Linked DNA regions of Homo sapiens. The protein of the gene in region 1 purifies or fractionates together with the protein of each later gene. This does not show direct contact. Each region holds a gene or a part of one and is shown in the gene's direction. Other genes may lie near its edges.

Region 1 (12,161 bases):
TATATTATCTTCTTTGTCCAAACATAGAAAATCATTTTCCTTTTAGGATTATGCTTTGCTACTCTGCAATTAAGCAAGTTAGTTTGGAATGTTTTTATTTTTATTTTCTTTCCCAAAGTTACCTAAGGAGTGTTTTAATTTTTATCAGTAATCATGTCTGTATCTTTAGTTCTGAGTTGCTTTATTAACTGGCTAAGGATGTTTTTGTTTTGTTTTGTTTTGTTTTTACCATATTCTGGCTTTCTCAGTGTTGTATGCCAATCTCCTAAGACAATGTTTAGAATTTAGTGGGTACTCAATAAATTTGTTGAACAACTTAATGGATTTTTAAATGTTTATTTCTAATTTTAAAAACGGTATGATAATTTTAGAAAGCAAACTTTATCATAATTCTAAAATTATGATAATTTTAGAAAGCAAACTTACACAATTGATTCTTTTTTGCTTCTTTTAGTCTTTAACTATGTACACACTTTTACATGGTTTTAGTTATTACAAACTTGAAATTTTGTATTTTTATAAATCAAAGATTTCCCATATTTTATGTTTTAAAATAGCCAAAGTAAACATCACGTTACTTAGAGCAGCAAGAAATTCTCTCTTAATTCTAGATGGGGATAATTTAAGAAATATACTATTCCTAACAAATATTGCTGAAGAATGAGGGTTTATTTTAATTTATGTATACTGGGATTGAGTTTCTTAATTTGAAATATTGTCTTTAAGTTGTCTATAACCAAGATATCTCGATGATCTTTCTTTTTTTTTTGCAGTACTTAGTAAAGAGCATGCAGTATCTTTAATGTTCAGATTAAGCAGTGTTCAGAATCATGATATCCTGAAGGAAGTTTGAATAATGTTGCAAAACAGAAAGGATTGCTAATATCTTAAATAGAGGAAGTCCTAACAACACATTTCCCAGTTTTCTTCAGGATCAAGACTAATTTTGTTAACATTTGTTGAACTTCTGCCTTCAATAAAGATGATATACTGATTTTTGGATGTTCTCACACTGAATTAGGCACTTGGGTAGACTTGTACCCATTGAGAGGTTATGCAAGCTCAAATGTGGAAAGTTTTTCTAGAAGAGCCTGCCTTTCAGGGCCAAAATGCCACAGGCACAGCATAACTTCCTGAAACAAATTTATTTCCTAAGACATTGGTTGCAGAGTAGAAATGTGTTCTTTAGAAACAGTTCTTCAGGCTTTCTGCCCTAAAAGTTACAATGTTGTCAGCAAGGTGGTTGATTTTACTTTCTTTTTGTTCCATCACAGTTTACCAGCATTACATATGCAGGGTATTGAGCTAACTGTCTGGTCAGGTGCTCCTTGTGGGGGCCACTTGCTCTAGATCCTATATAGACCAACACTCTTAGTCTTTATATCCAGAACCCAAGTGAAGCTTCAAAGGTTACTGGGAGGGTTGAAGAGGTGCTGAAATCAACACTTCCCTTAATGGAGGTCAGCACTTCCCCAGTCCTGGGAGAGACACAGACTGTCAGAAGCATCTGACTTTGCTTCATTCAAAAGGGAGTTTGAGGTATATATAGCAGACTTAAAAGTTATGAATAAAAATACCTTCTGTGATGAACAGAAGTTTCTCATTGATCACACTGACAAGAAACCTTTCGATGAACAGTCCGGGTAGAAGACATGTCACTCACTCTAAACAGTGTCTGTCTTCTTTCCTGGGCCTAACTGAACTTTGCAGAGTTCATTTGGGACATAAGGAAACAGAAGGTGTCAACTTGGCCCTTGTGCTCACTGGGAAAATGGGGAGAGACAGAACTCATTCAGGAGACCTGTAATTCTGTTCTTTCTCTGGGAGGCAAGAAGAAAGGTGAGTTTTGCATATGGGTGATGGAATGGAATAATCTCAGTTAAGCAGACCACACTTTACGTTCTAGTTAGCCTCTTGTTTGTTAAAAATTTGAATTGTAACCAGGTTCCTTTGCTGAGAAGGAAGGCACTAGGGCCCTGGAGTGAGATGATGGCTGTGTTATGTGACCACAGAAGGTGGTTACGTACTAATTTCCTCTAGGGCTTGTGATGAAGTCAGTAAACCACAGCCTTCAGCATGCTCTGCTCAGGCGGCAGCAGTGGCTTTTTGGAGGTGTCTCGGCCATGACACACATTTGACATGCCCTCCCTCAACCTACTTATAGACTATTTTTCTTGCTCTGCAGCATGGACCAAAGAGAAATTCTGCAGAAGTTCCTGGATGAGGCCCAAAGCAAGAAAATTACTAAAGAGGAGTTTGCCAATGAATTTCTGGTGAGTCCTGTATGTGACCCTCTCAGGGTAGTTACATACACTATTTAACTGACTATGGGGGTCCAATTTTCCGAGACCAAATTGCTCTTGGGATAAAGTAAATATGAGACCTTGGCGGGGAAGACAGAAAAAAAAAAGTTTGACTTCTCTGAGTGGTTTGCATGTATTTCAGGTATTCTCTCAAAATTACTGGTTTTAATATTTTGTTTGCTAGTTCTTTGGAGTTTGGTTAGGAATCCTACAGAAGACATATACAACTCCAGATGTAAAAACACTAATATTAATTGAACATCCAGATTTCCCCAGGTATCTAAGTTGTGGTTTATGCTTTATATTACTAATTTTAATTAATATTAAGAAGAAAGAGACCAATGTTAACTTTTCATGCAATATTACATTTTTAGCCTCCCCTCTGGGATTCTATTTGGTTGACAAAGGTTTTTGAAGAGCACCAAAACTACCCACTGCCACAGTTTTTTTTGTTGTTGTTGTTTGTTTTTTTAAGATTCAGAATCTTACTCTGTCACCCAGGCTGGAGTGCAGCAGTGCAACCACAGCTCACTGTAGCCTTGAACTCCTGGCCTCAAGTGATTCTCTTGCCTCAGCCTCCTGAGTAGCTGGGGCCACAGGTGTGTATCGCCATGCCTGGCTAATTTAAAAAAAAATTGTTTTTTTCTTTTTTGTAGATACGAGCCTTGCTTTTTTGCCCAGGCTTGTCTCGAACTCCTGGCTTCAAGCAATCCTCCCATCTTGCCTCCCAAAGTGCTGGGATTACAGGCATGAACCACTATGTCTGGCCATCATTTTTCTTTTCTTTTTCATATGAAAAATATATTATAACATGTGTTTTTTCAATAACAGGGCTTCCTTAACTTCTTTTGCTTGGAGAAGTGGAATGGCTAGGATGGAGAGTAGAGACAAGTGTAGGTCAAGGAGAGAAACATGAGTACAAGGTAGCTTCAGGTTGGGTGGATTAGATTACCCAGAAGAACAGTGAATCTCCTTTGAGAGAACTGTGATTATTGATGCAATGGCAGCTGGGTAGGCCTCATTCACCCTACAAGCTGAGATATCAGATAACATAGGGTGTCTAATAGTACCTATCATGTATTTTAGAATGCTTACAGCTGGCGTTTCAGAGATATAAGAATTTTAAACCTTAGCTCTTCAGTTGTGAAGAAATGGGTGGAAAGAGGGGAACTGAAGTACAAACCTGAAATTAAATCATGATTTTTTTTCACCAAATTATGAAGTATTTGACATGTTCTTAAATCTCTCTGTTTTCTAACTTATAAAATGGGGATAATAATACATGTCCTACCTATCCTCACAGGATTGTTGTGATGATTAAATATCAATAACAATCATTAAATGTGGTCATTTATTGAGTACCATTTATTGAGCACTTAGTATGTACCAAGTTCAGTTCTAAGCACTAAAAATACAGCGGTGAACAAAAAGAACCAAAACCTTTGCCTCCTGGAGCTAACACTCTGGTACCGGATAGCAGATGTGAAAACACTCTGAAAGTCTTGAGTAATTAGATATTATTGAGTGATTAGATATTATGATAGGAACTCCGATGTCAGCTCAACATGGATAATCTTGTGGTACTATGAAAAATGTGCTCTCACTGCCACTGGCTGATCAGTCTGAGCCCCTCTGGTAGAGTTACCTGAAAGGAGATAAGTAGGAAGTTCTAGCACATGTGTATACATGTCCCTGCCCCTGGACTATAATTCCTAAGCCAAGGTAACCCAAGGCATAGATGTAAAAAGTGAGCTGAGGGGCAGTGCCGGCCTCTGTTTTATTTTGGTTGTGTTTTTTAAAATAATGTAGACTGGCCGGGGGCAGTGGCTCACACCTGTAAACCCAGCACTTTGGGAGGCCGAGGCGGGTGGATCACCTGAGGTCAGGAGTTTGAGACCATCCTGGCCAACATAATGAAACCCCATTTCTACTAAAAATACAAAAATTAGCTGGGCGTGGTGGCAGGCACCTGTAATCCTAGCTACTCAAGAGGTTGACACAGGAGAATCGCTTAAACTCGGGAGGCAGAGGTTGCAGTGAACTGAGATAGAGCTGTTGCACTCCAGCCTGGACAACAAGAGCGAACTTCTGTCTCAAAAAAAAAAAAATGTAGACTATATCCCTAATATTTTACCTTTTCTCAGCTAAAGTCATTATAATTTCTCACCAAAATATAGCAGCTACCTCCTAACTGGCTTCTCTGCCTCTAGCCTTGCCCCACCTTCAGTCAATTTTCAGTTCAACACCCAAGTGATCTTTTAATCATACAAATCTGGTCTTTTTTTTGGGGGCGACAAAGTTTTGCTCTTGTCACCCAGGCTGGAATGCAATGACACCATCTCGGCTCACTGCAGCCTCCACCTCCCTGGTTCAAGCGATTTTCCTGCCTCAGCCTCCCAAGTAGCTGGGATTACAGGCATGAGCCACCACGCCTGGCTAATTTTGTATTTTTAGTAGAGACAAGGTTCCACCATGTTGGCCAGGCTGGTCTGTCCAACCAGGTAATCCACTCGCCTCAGCCTCCCAAAGTACTAGGATTATAGGCATGAGCCACCACGCCCAGCCAAATCTGGTCATTTTTTCCCTGCTTAAAAACTTGTTATAGTTTTTTTTAGCTGCTTAATATTGTGCAATATAATACACATTTAGAAAAGTACATAAAACATTTAAGTATAATTATAAAGCAACCATTAGCAGTGCAACCACTACCCAAGTCAAGAAACTGTCAGACCCCCGAAGACCCATGCCCCATCAGGTCCCCTACACCCATCTGCCCCTGTCCTGTCCTACCCTGGCCAAGGGATAATCACTATCCTGACTTTTATATTAATCACTTCCTTGCTTTTCTAGCTCCTGATTTTAAGGACCTTGTTTTTGGGTAGTGATTAAGTGTAACCTCACTGTTCACTGACTCATGTCCTCCAGTGGAAAAATAGAGTCTTCCTCTCAGCTCCATCTAAAGGTTTCAGATGAGACACCAGATAGAGAGCTTTGGGGGAGTAGAGGAGTAGTGAATGAGGCTAGACTGCTTGCTTGGACAAGGTAAATACTGCCACTAAATCAGAGGGCTTTCCATCTGGTCATGTTCTGTGTCCCATCTTAAGCCCTTAATGTATTCTCCCAGGATTTTATGTTTCCGAGGTTTGAGGACTCATTCTGTGACACAAGGCCACTGTTCACTTAACTGGTGGTAACTTTAAGGGAATTATCAAAAGGCATCTCTATTTCCAGGTAGATTCCCTGAGCATCCTAACCCCTTTACCCTCTCCCCAGGTCCATGGTTCAGATTTCAGTCTCCACTTCCTTCTTGGCCATACATCTTTGTACAGAGAACAATACAGATGGCTGTCTGTATCCCCAAGTTCTACATCCTTGGATTCAACCAACTATGGATCAAAAATATTTGAAAAAAATACCAAAAATAACACAACAACAAAAAATAAAAAATATAAAGCATAACAACAATTTATCTAGCATTTACATTGTATTAGGTATTATAAGTAATGTAGAGATGATTTAAAATATACAAGAGGTCATGTATAGTATGTGTAAATACTATGCCATTTTATATGAGGGACTTGAGCATCCACAGATTTTGGTAATTGAAGGGGGTGGTCCTGGAACCAGTCCCCCACAGATACTGTGAGAGGACTGTATTCATAATTGGATGTGGCAGTCCTGTTAATGGCAGCTGAAGCCAGTGCCATGCTGCTTATGTCTTTTCCCTGTGCCAGGACTAAATTCAGTAACTTTTCTGTAGTTGAAACTACCACTGACCACCCATCTAAGGTTTTTATACATTCATATAAACATTCATTGAGTGCTTATTGTGTGCAAAGTAATGCCCTAGATGCTAGGAATGCAATGCAATGCTCCATGCTTTAGTGGAGCTTATGTTATAAGGCAATAGATATGTCTTAGAGAGGCAGACATTAAACAACTAATTGCTATATTAAATATTTAATATAATTGTGATAGTCTGGGTGAGGTGGTCAAGGAAACATCAACATTCATTTTCTTATTTACTACTCCTTAAGAAAACCCTGTGAAATAGCTACAAATGTCATTTCTGACTTACAAATGAGGAAACTGAAGCTCTGAGAAGTTAAATAATTGGCCTAAGCTCACTCAGCTGTTCAGCCATAGAGATGAAATTTAACTCAGATCTGTCTTATTACAGAGCTGTAACATTAATCCTTATCCAATAGTGTTCTACTTCATCCAATGACACTGAGTCTCTCAAAGGACCTAGTTTTAGGGTAAGTTTTAGGGTAAGGACATAGTTAGTATAGTTTCTACACAGCAGAAACAGCAGGATGCAACTATACTGTTGAAATTTCTAAAGGTATTTTCAAACGTTCCTTATTATTGTTATAAAACAATATTATTGAAAGTTAAAAGAAAGTAAACTCACCATAATACCAACATTCTAACAAATCAAAACTTTTTTTGTGGATCTTGGCCAGGTGAGGTGGCTCGCGCCTGTAATCCCAGCACTTTGAGAGGCTGAGACGAGCAGATGGCTTGAGTCCAGGAGTTCAAGACAAGCCTGGGCAACATGATGAAACCCCGTCTCCACTAAAAATAAAAAATTAGCCAGAAGTGGTGGCACATGCCTGTAATCCCAGCTACCTGGGAGGCTGAAGTGGGAGGATCACTTGACCCCAGGGGGTGGAGGGTGTAGTGAGCTGAGATTGCACCACTGCACACCAGCCAGGGAGACAGAGTGGGACCCTGTCATACACACACATGAAAACCAACAATAGCTTTTTTTGTGGATCTTCTAGTTCTTGTCCATTTATGTAAATTTTTAATATTATTGTAATTATAGCATAGATACAATTTTGTGTTCTCATATTTTCACTTACCATTATACCAAAATTATCAGGCTGATTAAAATGTATATGATTTTTAATAGTTGATGATGCAGCATCATCACATGGACATATATTTGTCTATGTGGGTTTTGTTGTTGTTGTTGTTGTTGTTGTTGTTTTGAGATGGAGTCTCACTCTGTCACCAGGCTGGAATGCAGTGGCATGATCTCGGCTCACTGCAACCACCACCTCCCGGGTTCAAGCTATTCTCCTGGCTCAGCCTCCCCAGTAGCTGGGACTACAGGAGTGTGCCACCACACCCAGCTAATTTTTGTATTTTTAGTAGAGATGGGGTTTCATCATGTTGGCCAGGATGGTCTCGATCCCTTGACCTCATGATCTGCCTGCCTTGGCCTCCCAAAGTACTGGGATTACAGGTGTGAGCCACCGCGCCCAGCCTGTCCATCTGGTTTTATAATGAAAGAATAATAATCATAATAGAGAATGCTTCTATACCTCTTACAGACACTGTTCTAAACACTCATATATAAACTCATTTGCTCCATTGAGGAAGGTACTGTTTTCATTTCCATTTTATAGGTGAGGAAACAAACAGAGAGGTCAATTAACTTGCTCAGGGTCACATAGCTAGTAAGTGGTGGAACTGAATTTCAATTTCAGGTAGTCTTGCTTTGTCATCTGAAGTCATAAAAACTTTGGAGTCATATAAATCTTGGTTTGAATTTAAGTTATGCCCATGATTAGCTATGTGACCTTGGATTAAGTCAGTAAAATGTGGGAATAATATTCACTTTGAAGAACTGCTGTGAAGATAATAAGTATATAAACTTCCTGAGACATAGTAATACCCAAATAATTTATTTCTCCATTGTTAAACAGTTATTTCTAGTTTTTCATGATTATTGATAACACTAATATGAATATATTTTTCCATGTGGTTTTTCCCTTCTTTTGGATTAATCCTTAGGCTAGATCCCCAAAAATGTTATTACTGGGTCAAAGACTATTAGCATCTAATTGGTTAAGTATTACCAAATGTATTTCCAAAGGAGTTTTTCTAATTTGCAATATATGAATTTATCATCTTCTCTACCACCTTGCTAGACTTAATAAATATAAAAGAGAATAAAAGATGAAAACATTTTGCCTACTTACTATGTACTAGGCAATCTGCTAAGTGCTTTGCCGTACGTGATCTCGTTTAATCGTTACAACTACCCCAAGAGGAAAATATTATGTTCATTTTTACCCATGAAATGGAAAAGCCCGGATTTGAAACCAGTCTGTTTTTTTTCAAAGCCTCTTAACCTCTGTACTTAAACTGTATCAGGTAAAAATCATGACTTTTTTTCTGATATAACTAGCATAAAATAGTACTTTATTATGTTAATTTCATTCATTGGATTTCTGAGCCTTAAAATGTTCCATGATTATTTTAAATCTGCATTTCCTTATATACGTTTTCTGTTCATCTACTTTCCACAGTAACAACAGCTAATCCATAGAACTGTGTTCCAGACTCTGTGCTAAAAGTGCTTCACAAATAGAACTTCATTTACCTCCCAAAGAACCTTTTAAAATGGCTATCAATGTCCTACATGGTGTCTCTCCAGCTTCTTATAGCATGCTCATTTTCTTGTCCTTGCCATGCTTCCTCTGCCATAGGGCCTTGCACACATGTTGTTACCTCCGCCTTGAACATTCCTCACACTCCTCTTTACCTAGATAACATTTGGTAATTTTTTTTTTTTTTTTTTGAGACGGAGTCTCGCTCTGTCACCCAGGCTGGAGTGCAGTGGCACGATCTCTGCTCACTGCAACCTCTGCCTCCTGGGTTCAAGTTATTCTCCTGCCTCAGCCTCCTGAATAGCTGGGACTACAGGTGTGTGTCACCATGCCCGGCTAATTTTTTGTGTTTTTAGTAGAGACAAGGTTTCACTGTGTTAGCCAGGATGGTCTCTCGATCTCCCGACCTCGTGATCTGCCCACCTTGGCCTCCCAAAGTGATTATAGGCGTGAGCCACCATGCCTGGCCTTTTTTTTTTTTTTTTTTTGAGACAGGGCCTCACTTGGTCATCTAGGCTGGAGTGCAGTAGTGTGATCATGGCTTACTGCAGCCTCAACCTCTAGGGTTCCCATCTCAGCCTCCCAAAGTGTTGAGATTACAGGTGTGAGCCACCATGCCCGACTAATAATTCTTTAGATCTCAATTTGGTGGTCAATTCTTCAAAGAAAGCTTTCTTTTCTTTTCTTCTTTTCTTTCTTTTTTTTTTTTTCTGGAGACAGGGTCTTGCTCTGTCACCCAGGCTGGAGTGCCGTGGCTTGATCATAGCTCACTGCAGACTTGACTTCCTGGACTCAAGTGATCCTCCAGCCTCAGCCTCCCAAAGTGCTGAGATTACAACCATGAGCCACCACACCTGGCCAGAGAAAGCTTTCTGGACCTCTTTGAATAGATCAAATCTTCTATTGTAAGTTCTTATTAGCACCATTTGTTATTTTTCATAGCACTTACCACAATTTCAGTTTTTTGTTTGTTTGTTTGTTTGTCTGTTTTGAGATGGAGTTTTGCTCTTTTTGCCCAGACCAGAGTGCAATGGTGCGATCTTGGCTCACCGCAAGTGACTCTCCTATCTCAGCCTCCCGAGTAGCTGGGATTGCAGGCAAAGTTGCAGTGAGCCGAGATCGCGCCACTGCACTCTAGCCTGGATGACAGAGTGAGATCCCATGTCAAAAAAAAATATATATATATATATATATATTTATTAAATATAAAGGATTCATTGAATCCTAACAGAAAGAAGATACCTAGTTCTGAAGGCCAGGTTTAGGTGCTAACAGTTTAAACTATACTAGAAATCAGACTGGTACTATTGCAACTTCTGGAGATTCATTAGAAGACCAGAGACATATCAAAGATCTGGCTACATCTTGGTTCTATAAAGGAGACATAGATACATCCTGGTTCTGTGTATATTATAGTAATGATACTAACCAAACAGTTATCAACAAGGTACTTCCTACAGAGCAAGTGCACAAACATCTATGAATTGACACTACTCATTCCTGTGAATCAGCCTATCACTTGAACATATTTATCAGCATTTCTTGACCTTTGTGCACATTAAGGTGCAATTTTTAAAAATGCCACCACCAGAATAAATGTATCACATCACCTCTGAAGCTGATTTCTCTAACACCATCTCCAGCCTCTCACTAGGGACCATCTAGTCCTACATTTTCATTTACTCACAGGACACTTAAAACACATTTCTTGGCTGAGCGCAGCGGCTCACGCCTGTAATCCCCACACTTTGGGAGGCTGAGGCAGGCGGATCACTTGAGGTCAAGAGTTCAAGACCAGCCTGGCCAACGTGGTAAAACCCTGTCTCTAATAAAAATACAAAAGTTAGCTGGGCATGGTGGCAGGTGCCTGTAATCCCAGCTACTCAGGAGGCTGAGGTGGGAGGATCACTTGAACCTGGGAGGCAGAGGTTGCAGTGAGCCAAGATTGCGCCACTGAACTCTCTGCTGGGTGACAAGGCAAGATTCTGTCTCAAAAACCAACCAACCAACCAACAACACACACATTTCTTGCCATTTTCTCACATTTTATGTATCTAAAGTTGAACCTCTTGGTTTACTCACCCCAATTTAGCTATTGCCTACCCACCTACCCATTTGCCCCACTATTGCACTGGAAACTAACCTCGATAAGTTTGTCAGTCTTGTTGAAGATGATTGCATTGCACGCTCGTACAATTCAGTCTTGTCCTCCATTCCTACTGGTAGTTCTCCTGATTACTGGATTTAGAAGCCTGAGCTCCTAATGCCATTCCTTACCACTTGTACTTCTTCTGTCCTGATGGAGGCTTGGTATAATACTGACCTATATTTGCAAGGCACTGAGGAACTACCTTGCAGAGTTCTCGAGACAGCCAAACTTTGTGTTCTCCCACCTAGCACAGGAGGGCCAAGTTTAATTTTCCTCTCCCTAAAATGTATCTAAAATGCTACGTCTTCTATCCAGTAATGTAGTCCTTCAAGGCAAAGATATCGTGGTCTTGTGCTTTCTTTTACTTTCTGTTCTTTTTTGGGAGTGACTTTATTTTATTTACTAGTCTGTGAGAATAACATGCAAATGACTCAATCCGAATTTCTAGAATCTAATACTCCTTGTTATACTGGCCAGGATCCCCATTCTCCTCTCCTTTCTTGAAACGAAAGGGGTAGTATCATCTACAAACCAAATGAACTTACTATTAGCTTATCAAGCACACACAGAATCTGGTTTCTCACACATTCCACCCTATTTCAGGGCCCACGAGGGATGTTGAGCTCTCTCTTCACTTTATTCTCTTTTTTATTTTTATTTTTATTTTTTTTGAGGCGGAGTCTCACACTGTCACCCAGGCTGGAGTGCAGTGGTGTGATCTCAGCTTACTGCAATCTCTGCCTTCCAGGTTCAAGCGATTCTCCTTGCCTTAGCCTCCTGAATAGCTGGGATTACAGGGGTCTGCCACCATGCCCAGCTAATTTTTTTTGTATTTTTGGTAGAGACGGGGTTTCACTATGCTGGCCAGGCTGGTCTCGAACTCCTGACCTAGTGATCTGCCTGCCTCGGCATCCCAAAGTGCTGGGATTACAGGTGTGAGCCACCGCACCCAGTCTCTTCACTTTATCCTCTTGGCAACTATTCCCCTGACTTCTCTTGATGGTACTTCCTCTAGGGAACTCACACCCCTACCTTGTAGTTGGCAAAGAAATACCTTCACCCTTTAGATCTCATATCTTTTCTTCACAAACTTAAACCCATCCCCATGACCCTGCTTCCTCTTTTATACCCTTTTGCTTTCTACTTTCAGGGTTCCTCCTTTTCTGGTGTAGTTTATTACTTTTTCTGCCCTAATTTTGCCCTAATTTGTTCTTTCTTGGGATATTGGAGCCCGGGAGTCTGGCAGGAAGAGAGGTGGAAGAGAAAAATGAAGCCTGCCGGGCGCGGTGGCTCATGCCTATAATC
Region 2 (12,161 bases), on another chromosome or scaffold:
ATTAAATTATTATACTATGTTATATAGATATAAAAATATTTAGAGGTGAAATAATGCATTTGCTTCAAAATACTCCAGAGAGTAGGGTAATTGGTAGAGATATAGATAAAATAGAATCGGTTGTGAGTTGATAAATGTTTAAGCTGGTGATGAGTACATAGGGATTCATCATACTATCTGTACCTCTCTACACTTGTATATGTTGGAAGTTTTGTTTTATTTTATAACAAGTTTTAAAATGTAGCAAATTTTAAAAGGCATTCAAAATTTTTTGGTTTTGAATAAAACCTGTAGTATGAGATATGAAATTGAATCAGAAACTGTGGGGGTAGAGCTCAGCAATCTCTATGCTAATAAACCTTCCAAGTGATTCTGATGTGAATTCAAGTATGAGAACCACTTATAGCTATACCTGTCCCCATCCTTTTCTCCTCATAGAGTGGAAAAGGGGCTGTGGTATATAAAAGCTATGGTATGTAAAATTCATTCATGTTAAAAATAGCTATGGTATTCAATATTTTAAAAATACACTGATGTATCACATCCACTGTTGAATAGAATACCATCTGCTTCATAGAACAGCTTGATTTTTTTAAAGGTGATATTTGTTTATATCCAAAATACTGTATCTCAGGCAATGACTTTTATTTTAACCCTTTTTTTAAGGAAAAACAATTAAACATACACAAAGACAGAAGACAAGTACACGGCCTCCCATGTACTCATCAATCAGCATCAACAATTATGACCATCTTGCCAGTCAAACTCATTCATTCCAGGGTGGGAGGGGCAGCATTTTGAATCTGAGGCTCTGGCAGGCTGCTCAGGTGGAGATGATGTTAGATAGTTGGAAATGTCGGTAGGAACTCAGTTAGAACATTGGTATCTGGGATCATCATTACTTTTTACCCTCAGAACTATTTCCAAGCCTGTTTGTGTTACTGTGATATTAGGATTTGTTTGCATTCTTTGTGATATGAGTTTATGAGTTTCCTCAGTGGTGGGGGAGAAGCATTCTAAATTGGACAATAAGTTTACAGATAACTGAAGGTTGACACTGTTTCTTAAGTCACAGCTAGCCAAAATGAATGGTCCTTTTCCTTGCATATCTATGTACACGTAGCTATTTTTCTGTAGGCATTTGAGGCTCAAGAATGTGAACGAATAAACTTCTTCCGGAATGCATTGTGGTTACATGTGAATCAGCTGTCACAACAATGTGTCACCAGTGATGAAGTAAGTCAGAGGCATCCACTGAGGATTGTCGTGTGCATGTTGGATACATTAGAGTAGAAGGAACTATAGATATTGATTGGTTCACTTTGCCCTTGGTGAAGTAAGGTGACTTGCCTAAGGCCATACAGTGAGTTGACAGAAGGATGCAGATAACATGTAACCTGACTCCTGGCTCATTTGCCACCATGATTTTCTCATTAAGAGATTCATGGCTGGGAGCGGTGGTTCACTCCTGTAATCTCAGAACTTTGGGAGGCTGAGACGGGTGGATCACCCGAGGTCAGGAGTTTGAGACCAGCCTGGCCAACATGGTGAAACTCCGTCTCTACTAAAAATGCAAAAATTAGCTGGGCATGGTGGTGCACCCCTGTAATCCCAGCTACTCAGGGGGCTGAGGTGGGAGAATTGCTTGAACCCAGGAGGCGGAGGCTGCAGTGAGCCAAGATCGTGCCACTGCACTCCAGCCTCGGCGACACAGTGAGACTCCATCTCAAAAAAAGAAAAAAAATTCAGCCAAGGCTTTTGTCCTGCCACAAAGATACATTTTCTGTCATCTTTAAAAAATTAATAGTAAATGTAGGCTGGGCACGGTGGCTTACACCTGTAATCCCAGCACTTTGGGAGGCCAAGGCAGGCGGATTGCCTGTGGTCAGGAGTTCGAGACCAGTCTGGCCAACATGGTGAAACCCCGTCTCTACTAAAAATGCAAAAAAAATTAGCCAGACGTGGTGGCATGTGCCTCTAATCCCAGCTACTTGGGAGGCTGAGGCAGGGGAATTGCTTCAGCCAGGGAGGTGGAGGTTGCAGTGAGCTGAGATTGCACCACTGCACTGCACTGCAGCCTGGGTGACAGAGCGAGACTCTGTCTAAAAAAAAATAATAAAATAAAAAATAAAAAATTAATAGCAGATGTGCATCAGAGAAAAGCTCCAATATGAATCTGGGACTTTGGAATGTGTTCTTTTTTTTTGAAAACAAGAAAATTTGGAAGAGTCAGCTCTCTATCAAACCCATGTTTTTTTGTTTTTTTGTTTTTTTTTTTGAGACGGAGTCTCGCACTGTCGCCTGGGGTTGGAGTGCAGTGGTGTGATCTTGGCTCACTGCAATCTCCACCTCCTGGGTTCAAGTGATTCTCCTGCCTCAGCTTCCCAAGTAGCTGGGATTACAGGCGCCTGCCACCATGCCTGGCTAATTTTTTGTATTTTAAACAGAGATGGGGTTTCACTATGTTGGCCAGGCTGGTCTCGAACTCCTGACCTTGTGATCCGCCCACCCCAACCTCCCAAAATGCTGGGATTACAGACATGAGCCACTGCGCCCCGCCTCAAACCCATGTTTTTAAGGAGCTGTGTCACAATGATCTCAACATACCTCTACCTATTAATTGACCTTTTTTTATTAGATGTACGAACAAGTCCGAAAGAGTTTAGAAATGTGCAGCATTCAGAGGGACATTGAATACTTTGTGAATCAACGCAAAACTGGACAGATTCCACCAGGTGAATGGGGCAGTGGGGTGGGGAGTGTTATTTACACAATTCTATTAGCCTTTCTTGTTAGATGTCATTAAGGATGAAAGACGCCTGCCTCTTCATGTCCTGTTTCTTGGTGACTCTCCTAGCACCCATCATGTATGAGAATTTCTACTCCTCCCAGAAGAATGCAGTCCCAGCAGGAAAGGCTACAGGGCCTAACTTGGCAAGGTAATAACCAGCTGCCTTTCATATGAAGAAAAATACTTTTAACAAACATTGTTATCATGAATGTTCTAAGACATGTTAGAATTGGAACATATCTACTACTGCATCTGCTTAATAAGGCTGCTTGCTTTTTGGAAATAGTATTTTTAGGACAAATATTAAGTGGATTTTAATAGTCATAGTTCAGGGAGGAGTATATCATGCTTGAACTTGATCATTGTTATTCATGGATGAATCCTATACTTTTCTTATAGTCTGTAGAAATCCTATACTTTTCTTACAGCCAGTCAGCAAACTATGGCCCCTGAGAGTTAAATCCATTTTTATAGGGCCTGTGAGTTAAGAATAGTCTTTACATTTTTAAATGGCTGGAAAAAAGTCAAGACAATACTGTTTTGTGACATGTGAGAATTATTTGAATTTCAAATTTCAGTGTTCCTCTATCAAGTTTTATGGGCACACAAGCACCCTCACTCACTGAGGTTTTGTCTATGGCTGCTTTGCCACTAGAGTTGAGTAGAGTTGCAAGAGAGACGGGAGGTGGCCAGCAAAGTCTAAATCATTTACTACTTGGCCCTTTACTCAAAAAGTTCGCTGCCGTTCATGTAAAGGATCCTGCGGAAAGAGAAACTTCTGTTTGACATAGTCAGCTTGCAGTCTAAGCTTTTGAATTTTCACTCCAGTTTTAGTAAAGATGGGGAGTGCCTGGGAAGGATTGCATGATCATTATCAGTATTTAAGCGTGTCAGGCACTGTTCAAAACAGTTAGTGTGAATTACCTGATTTAATCCCCACAATGAGGTGGGAGCTGTTTATACTTCCTATTTTACTTATGAGGATGCGGATGTTCAAGGCACTCAGGAAGTCTTTCCTACCCAGCTAAGATTTTAATCCTGCCAGTCCGGGTTGTGGGGATAAGGCTCTGTGCTCCTAATCACTATGCATGCTGCCTCTTGCCATAGTACGACGTCTGCAACTTAGATTTCCGTAGGTCAGTGCTACAGATCATTTGCTTTAGGTGAGCTTTCTTGACCCTCCAGTGCAGAAACCAGATCTGATTAGAGTACAATAGGCTTGTAGCAAGAAGTAAAAAGATTATAAAAATAACAAGAACTTATCTAAAATACTTTGGTTTTCATTTCTTACAGGAGAGGACCCCTCCCAATTCCTAAAAGCTCACCAGGTATGCCACTAAAAAAGGTCTTTTGAAATTCTTATATTGCAAGGCAGGCAGATCACTTGAGGTCAGGAGTTTGAGACCAGCCTGGTCAACATGGTGAAACCCTGTCTCCACTAAAAATACAAAAATTAGCTGGGTGTGGTGGTGCGTGCCTGTAATCCCAGCTACTCAGGAGGCTGAGCCACAAGAATTGTTTGAACCTGGGAGGTGGAGGATGCAGTGAGCCAAGATTGCACCACTGCACTCCAGCCTGGTGACAGAGTCAAACTGTGTCAACAAACAAACAAACAAACAAACAAAAAAACCCCAAAAAACCCACGAAATTCTTATATTGGGTTTTCTTTAAAATTAAATAGCTAGAACTTTGAAATAAAGGGAATGAAAGGATTAAATAGAATCAAATTCCCAAGAGAATGAGCCTATATTAGAATCTTACTATAATACTACTTGTCACAGAGTGGAATATGATAATTGGTGGTCTATTTTATAGCTTATCCAAGATAATTCAGTTACTGAAATACCAAAAGAAACTTATTGCAAGCAGATTTTACCTAAAAGATTATTTCAACTTGGACTGTGAGAACAGCAGAACTGAGATATAGTTCCCCTTGGATTACATAGAAATACAATTTATAGAAGGCATCGATGTCAAGAAACGTGTCACTTAATGTTATCTTTAATGAGACCTTTCACTAATCACAGTAGTCTTTTTCTTTCTTTGAACGCCTATGATATCTCTGGGAGAAGTACACATCTTAGCACTTCTTATTAGTTGTATGGGATGTGAGGGCAGTCTGGCTGCAACATTTGTCAGCCCATTGATTGCTAGGGTTGATTCGGTGCATCCGGCTGGCTAAGCGGGTGTCCCCTTCCTCCCTCACCAGTCCGTGTGCATCCCTCCCGAAGCTACGTGCTCAAAGAGGATGATCATTTCTGATAGAGGAGGGCCAGTCTTTGGTCAAGAGTATATGAGTAGCTGCATTCCCCTGCAGCTACTCCAAACAAGCTCTCATTAGTTGTATGCCTTGAATAATAAGAAGATCCCAAGGTCAGGTACAACTTTGTCTTCTGTATTACTCACAACAGCTGACACAGTTCTGAGTACATAGTAGGTGTTCAACATATATTTATTATTTGAGTAAAGAAAAGATATACCTATCCATGTTCAAGAGAATGAGTGTACTAGTCTGTTTACATGCTGCTGATAAAGACATACCCAAGACTGGGAAGAAAAAGAGGCTTAATTGGACTTACAGTTCCACATGGCTGGGGAAGCCTCAGAATCATGGCGGGAGGTGAAAGGCACTTCTTACATGGTGGTGGCAAGAGAAAATGAAGAAGATGCAAAAGCGGAAACCACTGATAAAACCATCAGATCTCGTGAGACTTATTCACTACCAGGACAACATTGTGGGGGAAACTGCCCCCATGATTCAAATTATCTCCCACTAGGTCCTTCCCACAACGGTGGAAATTATGGGAGATACAATTCAAGATGAGATTTGGGTGGGGACACAGAGCCAAAACCTATCAATAAGGGAGGAGGACAGTTTATGCTGCACTTAACAGTTCACTAAAAATTTAGTGATGGAAAAAAAACTGTAGTGGCTGAAATTATATCTTTGAACAATATGAAGATTTAAGGTATTTTATTTCTTGTTGTTTTAGAATTACCACTTGGTAATGTAGGATGCTATTTCTGTCCATTTTTAAAGATGATTTTACTGTGGGTACTGTACCTGAGCATGGATGAAAAAGGGCAAAGAAGTCAGAATAGTGATTTCCAGAATGTCCTCTGGTTTGGAGTCGTGACTACCATTTATAGTTTTTGTTGGCAGATCTATTTTCTCTTTACAAAAGGATAGACACCAGAATCTGTAAGTGAAATGCCCTGGCTTGAAAAGGGTGAGATCTTATTATGAAAAATTGATGTTACTGTTGTTTTCTGTGTTCTGCCTTTTGCAGATGATCCCAATTACTCTTTGGTTGATGACTACAGTTTGCTCTATCAGTAAAATCAATGGTAAGAACCTTTATTTTTCACATAATTGAGTCATGTGTAGACTGGTAATTGTGCTATTGAAGCCTTTGAACCTTATTTATAACACTACCACAAACTAGCAAGGCCTTGCATGAGGCAGGTACACTGGCCAGCATGCTGTCCCTTCAGGACACCTCTGTGGATCCCACAGCTGGAAGCAGACTGGAGACCCCTCCATACCTATTTGAATGAGGTTATTTTTCCTTCATTGATTATTCCACAGTAACTCTTTATCTGCTTTTTTTTTTCGAAGCAGAGTCTCGCTGTGTCACCCAGGCTGGAGTGCAGTGGTGCGATCTCAGCTCACTGCAATCTCCACATCCTGGGTTCAAGTGATCTTCCCACCTCAGCCTCTTGAGTATCTAGGATTACAGGCATGCACCACCACACCCAGCTAATATTTTTTGTATTTTCAGTAGAAACAGGGCTTCACCATGTTGGCCAGGCTGATGTTGAACTCCTGACCTGAAGTGATCTGCCCACCTCAGCCTCCCAAAGTGCTGGGATTACAGGCATGAGCCACCATGCCCAGCCCTCTTTATCTGCTCTTATTAAGCTCTTTTATAGTTATTACACACCTGGATTTAAGGCAGTGCTCATCAACAAAACACACATCATCCTCACTGTTAAAGTAATTTAGATTTTAGCTTACTCTCCCACCATCTAAAAGAGGAAAAGTCAAATAAAAAGAAGTGCAAATGATATCACACTCATTATACACACAAGGTCATCATGGAGGTCATCCTGCAGATTATTATTGCTCTGAATAAGCAAACCATGAGGATTCTTAGACGAGGACTGAACACTGCTAAGCCAACTGTAGCTGCAAAGATATACTGCATGGTGACTTTTTCTTAGGCACTCAGGTGCTTGGAACATTCTCCAAGTCAAAATCATTCTTCACAGATGTGAAGAAATGCCTCAGAAGCCAAAGTAGCGATACTAAAAAAAACTCTTCATAAAGTATCATTCTTTTACCCCAGTGGGCTTATCTTGGGGTAAAAGAATTATATAGGTACACACGAGCTAAGAAAAGGTCTGAAGAGATATATTCCTAAATAGGTAATATTTTTCCTTCCTGTTTTTGAATTTGTCTGCAATGAAAATGTGTTACTGCTTTGACTAAAAACTGTTTTAAAGGGTTGATCCACTTACATATTCCTGATCTCAGTGTGGACTGAGCTACACTTCTGAACTACACGTCTTCGCATTTCTTGTTAGTTGTATGCCCTGGATAACAGTATCAGAAGACCAAGTGGCAGGCAGTGGGTGGGTGGGATGCCAGAAGTCAACAGAGAAAGGCAACAGCCTCTCTCTCACCCTTCCTGGTTTGGTGTTGGTTACATATACTGTCATTTATCAACCTAAACAGATTTTAACAGTGCTCCAGGGTGATTTTCTATAGCGTTCTATACCACCAAAGTGAGCACATCAAACATTGTTTGTCTCCAGTCCTCTAAAAACACCTACTTTGTGACTTATAGCCAACTGGCTATCTAGGACAGATGCCAACTTGTCCTAATTACATAAAAATAATCAGCTAATGACTGGGCACAGTGGCTCACGCCTGTAATCCCAGCACTTTGGGAGGCTGAGGCAGGTGGATCACTTGAGACCAGCCTAATCAACATGGTGAAACCCCATCTCTACTAAAACAAACAAACAAAAAATACAAAAAAGTAGCCAGCCATGGTGGCAGGCACCTGTAGCCCCAGCTACTTAGGACCCTGAGGCAGGAGAATCACTCGAACCCAGGAGGTGGAGGTTGTAGTGAGCTGAGATTGCGCCACTGCACTCCAGCCTGGGCGACAGAGCAAGACTCAGTCAAAGGAAAGAATCAGCTGGTTTCTATTATATTTAAACATAAGTCCTTAAATTGCTTAATATAATTGCTTAATATATTTAATATTTAAGCAACTTTGCTATAAAATATATGGAACTTGAAGACATAAAGTACCCTGTTCTTTAACTATATATAACTTAGGACCTACAAATCTACAAATAGATGCTAGTCTTTACAATCAGTCATCATTTCTTCTTCATTTCATAAGCCTCCCTCTTTCTCATGGAAAGGGGCAAGGCCCTAGTTAGAGGCAGAGTGGAAACCTGGTAAATCAATGACTTGGAATTCAGATGTGGCACCTGCTCTCTGGAGCACTGTGTAGATGATGGGCAGGTCACTGGCAGTCCTAAGTGTTTCTTTTTATTTTTTACCTTTTTCTTTTCTGTTCTTACTTGTTTGGGTAAAGAATATATTCTAGTAGCTTAATAGTACCACTTGACCCAACAACTGTAGTTCCTCAGAGTCTAAGAGTGTGATGTTTGAATGCAAGATGCTAGTGCCAACACATGTACTTGAGTTATATCATTTCACTGGAGTTCACTGGAATCTGTGCCAGTTCAATGAGTTGGGGTTCAACATATACATCAATTTCAGAAAATTTTACTAAAGGGAGTATACAACACATTCATATTCAGTATACAACATATACTGAATTTCAGAAAATTTTAAAGAAGGAAGTCTAATTTAGTGAATAACTTACTAAGCAACTTATCACAACAATTAAAATAGTTTGAATGAACTTTTGGAAAATAAATTTAAACAGGGTCCCGGTACGGTGGCTCATGCCTGTAATTCTAGCACTTTGGGAGGCCAAGGCGGGCGGATCACCTGAGGTCAGGAGTTTGAGACCAGCCTGGCCAACATGGTGAAACCCTATCTCTACTAAAAATACAAAAACTAGCCAGGCACAGTGGCGGGTGCCTGTAATCCCAGCTACTTGGGAGGCTGAGGCAGGAGAATCACTTGAACTTGGGAGGCGGGGGTTGCAGTGAGCTGAGATTGCGCCACTGCACTCCAGCCTGGGTAACACAGCAAGACTCTGTCTCAAAAAAAAAAAAAATTTAAACAAGAAGAGTTAGGAATTTGTGATTTGTTTTGTAGTTGTTGATTTTAGCTGCTATTCCTGTTGTTAATTCTAACATGTTTAGGTAAAGATAGATTAAAAATTTCAAATTTGAAATATGTATAAAAATGTAAATGTATGTATTATTTACCATAAAGCAATGCTGTTATCGTCACATTCCATTTCTCATTGCTTGGAATACCCATTCCTCACCATTTGTTTTCCTTGGCCTGCACCCTTATTCTTGTTGAATATACTCTCAAGGTAGGAGAGAGTATTGACAAGCACCTTTCATTCAGAGGAAATTTCTTTGTTATTTTCTTTCAGAAACCAGAGCTTTTTCCGGCTAGTGCTTCTGTGATATGGAAAGGGCACCCAGAGCAGCAGGACCTATAGCCACGTTATGTCAGCAATGAAGACTTTGAAGTGAACCCTTGCTATAATTTTTTAGAGATTTAAAATTTATGGTAGACATTTAGGACAACATAAGCAAGTAGAGTTCTGCAGTTTTTTGAAGTTTACAAATTGCCCCATTCTGAAGAATTATTCTTTCCCAGTTACTCAGGTTATGAATGAATTAGGTTTTCAACATGGGAAGCATGAAATCCACTTCTGGATTTGGAGCATCCACTTGAGGAGCAGAGGTGGCAGCAGAGGATTCTGAGCCACCAACTGCAGTAGTGGCTCCTTTGGCTTTGGGCAGCCTGGCTGTGGAGTTTCCACGGCGACACACAGCCTCAGTGGTGCAAGATTTAAAATTACCTTCCTTTTTGGCTGGAAGACTTAGAAGCCGCCTGATCATACTTTCTCATTTTACAGATGAGGAAATAAAGCCTACAAGTGTGAAATTAATTTCCTTACAGTTTTCCTAGCTGATGAGGGACAGAACCAGAACTAGAGCCTGAGCCCAACCCACATCACTATTCTTCTAACCCTTCCTGAAGTTGTGATGCTCATGCTGAAATTTAAGATGCCAAATATTTTTGCCAGCACTTTTTCAGTTGGGAGAATCACCAGGGTTTAAATGTCAGATTTATTTTTATGTGGATCCCTGTGTATGCTGAACTACAGAGCATGATGTTTAATCTAATTTAAGGAGCCACTGATTGTAAAACATGCCATTATTTTATGTTGCACTAAGAAGGTGGGGTCGAGGAGTTGCCAATAAACTTGGGACAGACTATTGATGGCCAAGCCCATCTGAATTTAAGATGCTAAAGTATGAAAAAAATACATCTTAGAATCAATGAAATACCATATTTTGATTCCATTCCTCAAGATAATTTTAGAGTTATAAAACCAGTCCTCAATTTTGGGTCTTCACAGAGAATCTTTCCCTTGCTAGACCCCAGAATTTTAAATGCATCCGTCTTACACTTTCACAAATATTTGGGTTTTCCTTTTTCACTCACAAACAGCAGGGAGGTCATGTACTTTTTGTACAACACCTGTGCACTATGAGAAAATGGTACCTTTTAGTTATTGACAAGTTAAAATAGCACTCTCAGTTTTTCAGTATTACAGAGAGCAAATAGTTTCCTCTCCTGCTCTGTGCAGTAGCTTTTCCAGAACTATGGACAAATTGATCAGAAGAAGATTGATTATTTCCTCATCTTTTTTTCTTTTTTTTGAGACAGAGTCTCTCTCTGTCCCCCAGGCTGAAGTGCAGCGGCATGATCTCAGCTCACTGCAACCTCTGCCTCCCGGGTTCAAGTGATTCTCCTGCCTCAGCCTCCTGAGTAGCTGGGATTACAGGCACCCACCACCACACCTGGCTAATTTTTTGTATTTTTAGTAAAGACAGGGTTTTACCATGTTGGTCAGGCTGGTCTCAAACTCCTGACCTCAGGTGATCCACCTGCCTCGGCCTCCCAAAGTGCTGGGATTACAGGCGTGAGCCACTGCGCCCGGCCTATTTCCCCACCTTTCGTGTAAGGTGCTACTGAACATGACAGCTTCTTGTCATGACAGGAAACTTGCATCAGTTGGATATCCTTTTGAGAAACTGAATTTTGCAAAGGGCCAAATTTCCCCAAACTGAACGGGCTCAGGAAATGTTCCTTTACACTCAGAACATTCTATTTTAAGTATATTATTTATTGTTGGCAGTTCCTCAGGGATTTCCCTTTTCTCTGTATTGGTCAGTGTAGTTGATGTAAAACCGTTTTGTGGATGGAAAATATTTTTATTTTATTGCTCTTTTAGTTTGGTAGGTTAAATAAAGGTTCTTGGTAATTTGGGATTTGTTTCGTATTTTTGTGTTGACCATATCGCTCTTCCAAGCTTTATTTGATCCCTTGCCACATTTGTGATTGTTAGGCTTCAAAAAGACAAACCGCTGGTCAGGGAAGCCAAATGGAGATGGTGCCGAACTACTTTGTACTAATCCTTCAGAGGTCAATTGCAGTGTTACTTCCTCTGCGAGACACCATCTCTGCCTTCAGACTAGGTTGGATCCAACTACTGTATCTCTCCTCCCCCTCCATTTTCCTTGTTATGATATGATTCACCCTTGAAATTAATTGTTCAAAGCCTGTCTTCCTTTTTAGACTGGAACCCCAATGGTAGCAGGGCCATTGTCTATTCTTTTTCCTGCTGTATCTCCAGCACCTGGCACATAGTAGAGACTATGAAAGAATTAGTGGCCCATAAGAAAACATAGCTAGAGAAACAACCACTTGAAAGAGAAATAAGGAGTGCAAAGTGAGTGAAGCCAAACGAGTACATGTGTTAAATTTAGTAAATGTGAGCTATTCTACAGACTGTTGGTATATTAATTTGGGTTCCATCAGAAGCAGACCCCGAGATAAGGATTTGTGTACAAGTACTTTTTCCAGAAAGTGCCAGTATGGAAGTGGGGAAGCCAGATAGGGAAAGGAAGAAAGGCAAAAACAGTGTGCATTATCAAGTAAGCTACATGGCAGGCAGCTGGAGCTTACTCTTGTTGAAGACTCCCAGGAAACAGTGCAGAACACACAACTGGGGCTGGGTGCGGTGTAATCCCAGCACTTTGGGAGGCCGAGGCAGGTGGATCACCTGAGGTCAGGAGTTCGAGACAAGCTTGGCCAACATGGTGAAATCCTGTCTCTATTAAAAAT

What was found.
Region 2: the proteins of PTPN22 (region 1) and PSTPIP2 purify together in Homo sapiens (affinity purification with mass spectrometry; 2 studies listed by BioGRID and IntAct, with this or other methods). This does not show direct contact.

The regions. Positions count from the first base shown.
Region 1 is NC_000001.11:113,861,649-113,873,809, reverse strand, and holds the start of PTPN22 (tyrosine-protein phosphatase non-receptor type 22), read left to right. Parts: upstream 1-2,097; 5' UTR 2,098-2,186; coding exon 2,187-2,273; intron 2,274-9,532; exon of another isoform or gene 9,533-9,612; intron 9,613-12,161. UniProt on the Homo sapiens protein: Acts as a negative regulator of T-cell receptor (TCR) signaling by direct dephosphorylation of the Src family kinases LCK and FYN, ITAMs of the TCRz/CD3 complex, as well as ZAP70, VAV, VCP and other key signaling molecules.
Region 2 is NC_000018.10:45,982,680-45,994,840, reverse strand, and holds the end of PSTPIP2 (proline-serine-threonine phosphatase-interacting protein 2), read left to right. Parts: intron 1-1,137; coding exon 1,138-1,236; intron 1,237-2,638; coding exon 2,639-2,735; intron 2,736-2,857; coding exon 2,858-2,939; intron 2,940-4,084; coding exon 4,085-4,119; intron 4,120-6,081; coding exon 6,082-6,131; 3' UTR 6,132-6,139; intron 6,140-9,390; 3' UTR 9,391-11,305; downstream 11,306-12,161. UniProt on the Homo sapiens protein: Binds to F-actin. May be involved in regulation of the actin cytoskeleton.